Regions from separate parts of the Homo sapiens genome. Here region 2 is linked to region 1. The links come from fine-mapping of genetic effects on gene expression. A gene starts in region 1. The other region holds a variant in brackets. All regions are shown on one strand. Distances are between the middles of the regions. Region 1 holds the start of SLC29A1 (solute carrier family 29 member 1 (Augustine blood group)). Region 2 has its middle 18 kb from the start of MYMX.

Region 1 (5,368 bases):
GGAGGGAGGGAAAGACAGTCAAAGAAGGCAGGCAAGAGGACGAGAGGGGTCAGGGACAGTGATGACAAGGGAAGGAGGGAGACAAATGGAGGAGACACAGCAAAGAGGTCGGGGGAGGAGGAGGAAGGACACGGAACAGGCAGATCTGCAGCAGCTGCGACAACATCGATGATGACTGAGGTCAAACCAGAGGCTCCCCAGGCCCCTCTCTGCAAGTCTGGTCTCTCCACCCTCCCTGGGGAGCCCCTGGATTCATGGCTAGAGTGGGGCTGTCCTCTCCTGAAGGCAACCCAGATTCCAGTCTCTCTGCTGTTGGCACCTTAACCTTTCTTTCCAGCCACTGCCCAGGGGCTTCCTAGTTGCTGGCCGGTTTTCCAAGAAAATATTTCATAATGGATGTGGGGGCACAGCCCTTCCCCCTCCCCCCTCCCGACCCCAGGGTCACCTAGTCCTCCCTTAGTTCCTCTCTGTCACAGGCTCCTGTCCGCTTCCCCTTTCTAAGAGTGACCTTGAAAAGAAGATTGGAGGGGTGGATCCCAAAGCACCTATCCTTCTGCCTCAGCGTCCCTCTCCTGCTCCCCATTTGTGTAGGGGGAGACCCCCTGGCACCAGCAGATTAAACAGCTTTCCCATTGGGTGGCATGGGAAGCCAGGCAGATGTGCACTGACACATTCCCCACACTCAGGCCTAGCTGGGCCCAGGCCTTGCTGTTTGGGGTGAAAGGACAGCTTCCCTTCCCTCCCTTTCTGGGCACTCACCAGGTGCCCAGACTGGCCAGCAGAAGGGTCAGAGCAGAGCAAGCCTGGGCAGTCCCTAGGAGGTGCTCCTAGTTCAGGCTCAGGCAGTGGGCCTTGTCCACGGGCTCCTGGGTGCGGATCCAGAATGAAAAAGGTGGCACAGGGTGTTATCAGGAGAGAGTCCCTCAGGCTTCATGGGGCCCCATTCTGAGAAGCCTTGCAAGCAAAGAAGCAGAAGCACACCCAGGAGATAAAAAGCCACCCCTGTCGCTCGGGAGATAAGAGAACAGGGAGTCTCAGCAGGGGAGCTCTCGCAGGTGCAGCATTGCTTCTGGCCCCACTCAGACAAACAGAAGCAGCTGGGCACCATGAGACCTTCCACGGGCTCTCCCACCTCCCTGTAGTTCCTCTCAACCCTCCCCAGGGAAACTCCAAGCTCTCAGAGGTCCTCCTCAGCCCCTCAGCCCCACACCTCCAGATAGAGGCAGAAGGATTCCTCCATTCAGGCCTTCGACAAATATTTACTGAGGACCTGTGCATGCTAGCCAGGCACTGTCCTAGGCACGAGGGGTGAATAATCATATTTACATTTTCTAGAGAGATGAAGGCAAGAGGGCATTACTGGAGTGGGGGTGGGGGAAAGCCTCAGGTCTCAGATTTTTTCTTTTTTTTTTTTTTTTTGAGACGGAGTTTTTGCTCCTGTTGCCCAGGCTGGAGTGCAATGGCATGATCTCGGCTCACTGCAAATTCTGCCTCCCAGGTTCAAGTGATTCTCCTGCCTCAGCCTCCCAAGAAGCTGGGAATACAGGCTCCTGCCACCACCCCCGGCTGATTTCTGTATTTTTAGTAGAGACAGGGTTTCACCATGTTGACCAGGCTGGTTTCGAACTCCCGACCTCAGGTGACCCACCCACCTTGGCTTCCCAAAGTGCTGGGATTACAGGCATGAGCCACTGAGCCCTGCCTAGGTCTCAGGTTTTCTATTAGGTAGTAGGGACTCTTCCTCTAGGTTCTTACTTCATACCCGCATACCCCGTACTCCACCCCACAGGCAAGATTCCTGGCAGTTAAGAGCAGGTGTAGCTTCAAAGCAGATGGGGGCCTAGGGTGGGGAGAATAGCTCCTGTTCTCCTGGGTAAAACTGGCTTAGGCTTAGAGAAGAAGTATTTATTTCTTCCCTGGCCCCCTGCTACACCCCTGCTCTCTCTGTTCTCAGGAGTTCCCATACCAGTCTTGGGCACAATTCAACTCCAGCCCTCTCCTCCTGCCCATATCCTAACATTCAGCTGGCCAGCCTTCGTGTTTTGCTTTTGTCTGCCTTTGCCCAGCGGCAAACAGGGATCTGATACCAGCTCAGAGCATCTGGTGTCCCTCCAACTATGCCTTGGCCTGCTGAGGTGGGCCCCTGAAAGTAGCCACCAAATTGAGTACCTCCCTGCCTCCAGACTCCCAACACCTCTCCTGCAATTCTCCACTCCCAGGATTTCATATGGGGCTAGCCACTACCTGCAGATCTCTTGTCTTTTCTTCACAACCACCCATAAGCTAGTACTAGCACTGAATAGATGGGGCCAGCTGAGGTTCAGAGGGGTTGAGTCACTTGCCTGAAGTCACAGAGCTGGTGAGTGGAGGAGCTAGAATCCATATTAAATGTTCAAGCTCCTTTTGGAATGGAGAGAGGTATAAAAGCTGCTTCTCAGTTAGCCCTGTAGACTGGGAGGTGGGGGGAACTCTGATTCAACTAAAGGGAAAAATGAGGTGGAGACCAAGATCATTCCCAGCCTGACTTGAGTGTCAGGCAGCTCAGCCCCGCCCCATCACACACATCCTGGCATGGGGAGCTTACACAAGCAGGAGGAAAGTTGGAGGGTCTGGAGGCCACCGAGAGGAGTAGGCAAAGGGACTACCACAGGGCTGCAGAGAGACCCCTAGAGGTGTGAGGGCAGGGTTGGAGCCAGCCTTGACCTACGACTGCTCTCTCCTGGTAAGCAAAGCCGAGGACTGTTTGTCTTCACCCTCTCATATACCCTCACAGTAAATCAGTAAATGAAGACGTGCGCAGGAAGGAGACGCCAGGGATACGAGTTTAGCCAGTAAAAGACCGGGGTTAAAGAGACAGCCCCGCACCTCCGCTCGCGAGCCTGCACCTCCGCTCGCGAGCCTCCATCCCCATCCCCATCCCCATACCCCTCCGCCAGCGCAGTCAGCGGCACGGCCCCTCCCTGATACCGACCAGATCGATGGGGATCACCCGTCCACTCGCCTGCCCCTTGCGGAGGTCAACGTGACCGCAGCCTGTTTTAGGCCCGGGAGCCAGGCCGCCCCGCCCAGCTTGGGTCCCGGTCCCCGCAGGGTCCTCAGGCTCCCTGGCCCGTGCGCGCCACGTGCTGCGCGGCTCCGCACGCTCCGCACTGGGGCCCCACCCGGCGTCCCTTCTCCGGGCTGCGGAGCCGTCAGGCCCGCCCTCCCTGCCCTCCGTGGCAGGCGGGCAGCGGCGTCTTCCGCCCCGGCAGTCCCCAGTCCCCAGTCCCCGGCCCCGGGCAGCACCTGCCGCAGAAGCACTGCTCCCGCGCTGAGATCCGCGCGCTCTCGCTGCAGCTTCCCTCTCCCGCCGGGGCACATTCAAACCCGCCCTCCGCTGAGCTCGCCCCGCCCTGCGCCCACTGCCACCTCCCCGACGCCCGCGGCCCCGCCCCCGGCCCACCCCTGCCACCCCGCGGCGACTCCGCGCGCTCCGCCGCTCCCACCCCGAGCCCCTGCGCCCCCAGGGCCGCCTGGTCGTGTTATTGCGGTAGATAGGACCTCTTTGGGCCCTGCCACACCAAGGCTGTCTGTCCATCGTGTGGGGTACATGGGGCTGGAGGGTACAGCCACACATTAAGGACCTGCGCAGACTCCCATAAAATTCATCTCGGGACTGTTCCATTTACACACCCGCTGCTCAGACCGGCCCCGACGCTCCACGGCCCACTCCACCTCAGATATTCCGTTATCCCTTCCCAAGCCCTGCCCACGCCGCGCTTCCTCCACACTGCACCTTTTTCCTCCCAGCGCCCTCCCTTTCAGCGCCCCCTTCTTTCTTTCAGTCCCCCTCCTCTTCTTTTCCTTCAAAACTGCTTCTGTCCCCACCGCGCATTTTCTGTGACCAGCATGATGGGTTTTCCCATCCCTGACACATCCAGTCCCAGCCACAGACGCGCAAACACCACCCCACTCACAACTTTGACTTGGAGGGGGTATGTGCCTCTGCCTGTGCTTGCGTGTGCGCGCGGAGGGGGGTGGGGCAAAGCCCTCCAGCTCCCTCATAATTCACCCTTTCTAAATCCAGCACTTTGGAAAACTGAGGCACAGGTGGGAATGGGAAGAGAAAAAGCTAGGAACAGCCTTATATCCTCAGTGAATCCTATTGTCCCAGCCATCCTGACAGGCGGAAGCCTTGCTGAGTATGTCTTTCACTAGCTAAGGAGGAAGGTGTGGGCGTGCTGAGGGGTGGTCCAGCAAGTCCCTCCAAGGGAGGGGGAGGGAGGCCCTCTCTTTGGTCGGGCAATAAATGGGGTGGGGTGGGGGGCACTCCCTGCCCTTCCAGCAGTACTCAGTGCTAGAGGATGATCCTAAGGCTGGAAAGGTCCTGAGGAGAAAATCCAACCCACGCTGCCCACCCCATGCCCACTGACCCGAAGGGCTTGTCCCCTAGAGAAGCCACAGACACTGATTAACAACTGGCAGTACCTCACATCATAGGGATAAGGTAGTCCTACCCTGTCCCCAGAGAAACAGACAGGGCCCTAAGGAGAGAGGTGGCTTTTCTAATTAGGGTCAGTGGCTCTCCCCAAGCTACTCCAGAATGGGTGTCCCCAGCCTTCTGTTTCCATGCCCCACAGAGATGACACACATATTCCTTCCCAACCCTCCCCCACCCCACCCCCATCCCCCACATCCCCGCCAGCCCTAACCAGAGGGCAGGAAGATGGGTTTAGGTGGTATTTTTCCAGGCACAGCCCCATGACTTGAGAGTGGCTTCATGTCTGTCCACAACCCCCTAATTCCTGCCCTCATGTTTGTCCAGTCTCTCTCTCTTCCTCTCCTAGCCCTCCTCTGCCCTCTGCCTTGGCCCCCTTCCTCGCTCCCCACCCTCCTTTCCTGGTCTCTGGGTCTGTGGGGGTGGCAGGGCTAGTGGTCAGAAGATCTGCCAGGCATGGCAAGGCTGGTGGCCAGTGGCTGCAGTTGTGTACAGAGGGGGCTGGAGGTGGAAGAAAACTGGAGGGAAGTGGTGAGGGTCTCAGGCCAGACTGGGAAAGGCTGGTTCCTCTCCCCACCCAAACTGGGGCCCTGCCAGCTCGGTGGATGGCAACAGCCAGGGCTGTTATTGTTGGAGAGAAGTCCGTCTGGCATCCATCCTGCTGGGCCCCTAGCCAACACCCACACCCCTCTGTAGCCACCTCCCAAGCAGAGGTTGCTGGGTGCCAGGGCCCCCTGCTGGACAGCCTGGGAGCCCCAACTTACACAGGCCTTGCCTGGAGTTTTTCTAGCCAGGCCTTGCCAGCTCTCTTCAGTCTCTGCCTGGTCTTCTGGCTTCTCTCCCTCCCTGAGCTCCCTCAGGTCCCTGTCGAAGGGGTGGGGTGGGAAGGGT
Region 2 (5,368 bases), 25 kb after region 1:
TCTGGGACCCTCTCTCAGGGCCCCTCTGGATGCCAGAGCAGGCTGTATATTGCACAGCGGGAGTTGAGAGTGGCACCTTCCGGAGCTGTGCTATGGGGTGGTCCCCCTCCCTAAAATGGGAATTATAATAATACCTACAGCTGACCAGATAAAGAGATGAGGAGAATGTGAGGCTCAGAGTTTGGCTACCAGGTAGGTGTCTCATAAATATTAGTTTCCTTCCTTCCACCCTTATGTCAGAGGCCAGCAGAGAACTTGCTGCTCCTTGGAGGCCTGATGCAAGGCACCCTGCTGCTCATGGGCAGCACTTAGATCAGAGGCTGGGGCTCTGTTAATGCTTGAAGAATCAAGGGAGGCCTGCGGAGGCTGTGGCCCCTCGCTCTGTCATGTTTCACTGGCCTGTTGTCCTCTGGGAAATCAGCATTGGTGTGGGGCCCTTCCTGTTTGTGGGAGGTTGAGGACAGCTCTGACCCCTAAACAAGGAGTTCTGACAAGGAGCCAGGGAGGCCTCATCAAGGGCAGGGTGTGTCAAGGGGTGATGTTACCAAGGAGCAGGTGGGGAGACCTTGGGGCCAGGAACCAGAGCCAGCCAGGTATAGGCAGTGTGGGTGGGGAATGGGCGGAGTTCTAGCCCAGGAACTGGGAGCTCAGCCCTGTCATAATCACAGTGCCTTTCTGCCTGGGACAACAGGCCAGAAACCACCTACCTGAGTGAGGAGCTAGGGCCTGAATGTGACCACTGAAAGAAGAGGTGATGCGCTTTGGAGGGATGGTCCCTTATCCATGACCATCATTCCTCTGCCCACCAATTCCAGGCAATGATAGACCCATGCACAGGCGACCGGGCAGTGGGACACACACTGGATATGCCTGTAAGACATGAGCAAAATGGGCCAGGGAGTTGGAGGTTGCCTGAAAGAGTAGCTAGCACAGACAGATGGGACTCCCCAATCCACAAGAACAGTTGTTCTAGCCAGGGAGGAGGAGGTGGCCCAGGAAAGGAGCTTGTATAGAATACAGCCATTGTCCCCACTGCAACAGCTGTTGCCCACTGCCCCCCACCCCCCACTCAGCTGACAGGACCCTGAGGGTGGGAGGTGGGGGCCCTACCCTCTCTGGCAATGCCTCAGAGGGAACAGTCAGTTGTTGGGGCAGGAGACAGCTGTTTCCTGGACAGTGAGAGGGATGAGGGTGGACAGAGGAGCTTGAGGAGAAGGTAAGGAAGGACATGCCTAGCATATCTGATGTGGGGAGGGAGAGCAGCAAAAACCACAATGCCACAGGGAAAAAAATCTAATAAAAACCTGATGGCCAGGCGCGATGGCTCACGCCTGTAATCCCAGCACTTTGGGAGGCTGAGGCAGATGGATCACCTGAGGTCAGGAATTTGAGACCAGCCTGACCAACAAGGTAAAACACCATCTCTACTAAAAATGCAAAAATTAGCCAGGTGTGGTGGCAGGCGCCTGTAGTCCCAGCTACTTGGGAGGCTGAGACAGGAGAATTGCTTGAACCCGGGAGGTAGAAGTTGCAGTGAGCCCAGATCGTGCCACTGCACTCCAACCTGGGTGACAGAGCAAGACTCTGTCTAAAAATAAAAAATAAAATAAAATAAAAAAAACTAGGCAAGACCCCAGTGGAGAAACAAATTTTTTATGGAGAAACCAAAAAAGAAGACCTAAATATTTGAATATTTGAGTGAATGAGGCAAGGTAATGGTCAGTAAAGTATTATGTTATAATTTTTTTTTTTTAAGAGGTAGGCTCTTCCTCTGTCTCCCAGGCCTGGAGTGCAGTGGCACAATCATAGCTCACTGTAGCCTTGACCTCCTAAGTTCAAGCAATCCTCCCACATCAATCTCCTGAGTAGCCGGGACTACAGGAACAGGCTACCATGAGCCACTGTGCCTGGCTATAATTGTTATAAAGATGTTAGTTCTGACCGGGCACGGTGGCTCATGCCTGTAATCCCAACACTTTAGGAGGCCAAGACGCTTGGATTGCTTGAGCCCAGAAGTTTGAGACCAGCCTGGGTAACATGGCAAAACCCAGTCTCTACCAAAAAATACAAAAATTAGCCAGACATGATGGCTTACTCCTATAGTCTCAGCTACTTGGGAGGCTGAGGTGGGAGGATGGCTTGAGCCCGGGAGATTGAGGCTGCAGCGAACAGTGATCATGCCACTGGACTCCAGCCTGGGTGGCAGAGAGAGACTGTCTCAAAAAAAAAAAAATTAGTTCTCCCCCAAATTAATTAGAAATTCAATGCAACTCTGACCAAGAATCCACCAATCTGTGTTTTTTGTCTTTCTGGAAGCTGATTGTAAAATTTATATGGGAGTCTCAAAAAAGAATAAAATAAAATTTATATGGGAAAAAAAGACCAAGAATAACCAAGTTAATGCTGAAGAAGAAAAAGAAGAGGGGGGCCAGGCGTGGGGGCTCACGCCTGTAATCCCAGCACTTTGGGAGGCCGAGGCAGGCAGTTCACTTGAGCCGAGGAGTTCGAGATCAGCCTGGGCAACATGATGAAACTGTCTCTACTAAAAATACAAAAGAAAATTAGGGGGCACAGTGGCACACACCTGTAGTCCCAGCTACTCGGGAGGCTGAGGTGGGAGGATCACCTGAGCCTGGGAAGTCTAGACTACAGTGAACCATGATAGCACCACTGTACTCCAGCCTGGGTGACTGGAGTGAGATCCTGTCTCTAAAATAAATAATGAAAGAAAGATAACAAAAATAAGAGGGCACTAGCCCTATAGATACCAATCTGGCCAATCTGGTAATATGGGAATGAAAACAGTGTGGCAAAATGCAAGAATAGACACAGTGACTAAGGAACAGAATAGAGAGATTAGAAACAGATCCAAGAACATGTAGGGGAGAGGGGGAATTGCTGGTCAGTGAAGGGACAAAAATGGTCAGAAATAGGGCTGGAACAGTTGGCCATCCCCAAAAGGAAAAATAAGATTTGATCCTCTGGCACATCAATTACAAAAATAAATTCTGGGCCAGG[T/C]GTAGTTACTCACGCCTGTAATCCCAGTATGTCTGGAGGCCAAGGACAGATCACTTGAGGTCAGGAGTTTGAGACCAGCCTGACCAACATGGAAAAACCCTGTCTCTCCTAAAAATACAAAAATTAGCTGAGCATGGTGGTGCACGCCTGTAATCCAGCCTGGGCGACAGACCAAAACTTAAAAAAAAAAAAAAATTCTGGTGGCATTAGAGATCTAAATGTATAAAGTCAAACTATAAAATATAGGCACTGGTGCCTGTAATCCCAGCTACTGGGGAGGCTGAGGTGGGAGAACTGCTTGAACCTGGAAGGTGGAGTTTGCAGTGAGCTGAGATTGCGCCACTGCACTCCAGCCTGGGCAACAGAGCAAGACTGTCAAAAAAATAAATAAGTAAATAAATTAAATTAAATATAGGCACAGATCTTTAGGAATTTGGGATAGGCCAGGCACGGTGGCTCACGCCTGTAATCCCAGCACTTTGGGAGGCCGAGGCGGGTAGATCACGAGGTCAGGAGATCGAGACCATCCTGGCTAACACGGTGAAACCCCATCTCTACTAAAAATATAAAAAATTAGCCGGGCGTGGTAGTGGCGGGCACCTGTAGTCCCAGCTACTCGGGAGGCTGAGGCAGGAGAATGGCATGAACCCAGGAGGCGGAGGTTGCAGTGAGCCGAGATCGCACCACTGCACTCCAGCCTGGGTGACAGAGCGAGACTCTATCTCAAAAAAAAAAAAAAAAAAAAAAAAAAGAGGAATTTGGGATAGTAGAGAATTATGTGTTGTATAGATTCTTACAAACTTTTTGTTATGGCAATTTTTTAAATTATGAGAATAGTATAATAAACTCCTATGCATGAGCCACCTAGCTTCAATAGTAAGTTGAGATCTTTTGATACTACAAAAGATACTACAAAGTGAAAAGACAATCCCCCGCAGGCTGGAAGGAGATATTTGCAGTCCATATAATTGAAAAAGATTTAGTATCAATTACAAGTAACATACTTTTATAATCAATAGGGCCAGGAGTGGTAGTTCACCCCTGTAATCCCAGCATTTTGGGAGGGTGATGCAGGAGGATCACTTGATCCCAGGAGTTCAAGGCCAACCTGGGCAACATAGTGAGGCCCTGTCTTTATTAAAACATAATATAATATAATCAATAAGAAAATGACAGAAAAAGAAACAAAGGATCAGAGGTGGCAATCTCCTGAAACATGAGTAAGTAATCCATAAATGTGAAAAGCTAGTTATCCCTGACAATGGAGAACTGCAAACTATACCCAGAAAGAGTTACCACATCATACTCCTGAGAAGTGGCAAGTCATAGGGTACTGGAAGGAGAGGTGGTGCTTTTTTGTTGTTTGTTTTTTTGAGACGGAGTCTCACTCTGTCACCCAGGCTGGAGTGCAGTGGCATGATCTCAGCTCACTGCAACCTCCGCCTCCTGGGTTCAAGCGACTCTTCTGCCTCAGCCTCCGGAGGAGCTGGCATTACAGGCGTCTGCCACCACACCCAGCTAATTTTTGTATTTTTAGTAGAGATGGGGTTTCACCATGTTGGTCAGGCTGGTCTCGAACTCCTGACCTCAAATGATCCGCCTGCCTCCGCCTCCCAAAGTGCTGGAATTACAGGCGTGAGCCGCCGTGCCCAGCCTGTTTGTTTGTTTTTGAGATGAAGTCTTGCTCTGTCCCCCAGGCTGGAGTACAGTGACTCGATCTCGGCTCACTGCAGCCTCTGCTTCCTGGGTTCAAGTTATTCTCCTGCCTCATCCTCTGGTGTAGCTGGGATTACTGGCTAATTTTTGTATTTTTAGTAGAGATGGCATTTTGCCATGTTGGTCAGGCTAGTCTTGAACTCCTGACCTCAGGTGATTTGCCCTCCTCAGCCTCCCAACATGCTGGGGTTACAGGCATGAGCCACCATGCCCAACCTGTTTGTTTGTTTTGACACGGAGTTTTGCTCTTCTTACCCAGGTTGGAATGCAATGGCGCCATCTCAGCTCACTGCAACCTCCGCCTCCCAGGTTCAAGCGATTCTTCTGCCTCAGCCTCCTGAGCAGCTGGGATTACAGGCATGTGCCACCACATCCAGCTAATTTTGTATTTTTAATAGAGACAGGGTTTCTCCATTTTGGTCAGGCTGGTCTTGAACTCCTGACCTCAAATGATCCGCCCACCTCAGCCTCCCAAAGTGTTGGGATTACAGGCATGAACCACTGCGCCCGTCCTGTTTGTTTGTTTGGAGACCGAGCCTTACTCTGTAGCCCAGGCTGGAGTACAGTAACGCAAATTCCGCCTCCCGGGTGCAAGTGATTCTCGTGCCTCAGCCTTCTGAGTAGCAGGGATTAC

The links. PIP is the estimated chance that this variant, and not a neighbour inherited with it, causes the effect. A credible set is the group of variants that fine-mapping cannot tell apart.
Region 2: its variant is the best candidate, but not a certain one, in a credible set for the expression of SLC29A1 in aorta (GTEx, PIP 0.85).

The regions. Positions count from the first base shown.
Region 1 is chr6:44,221,559-44,226,926 of GRCh38, reverse strand. SLC29A1 (solute carrier family 29 member 1 (Augustine blood group)) reads right to left here and starts at 3,332. Exons shown (of 13, transcript NM_001372327.1): 1 at 3,286-3,332. RefSeq lists enhancers at 1-106, 2,253-2,402, 2,645-3,503 and a silencer at 3,093-3,492.
Region 2 is chr6:44,196,556-44,201,923 of GRCh38, reverse strand. It overlaps a transcript of MYMX not described here. Among named protein-coding and RNA genes, the nearest start is that of MYMX, 18 kb to the left of the region's middle. RefSeq lists enhancers at 1-370, 371-1,371. The variant T/C (reference allele first, on the strand shown) is at 3,019.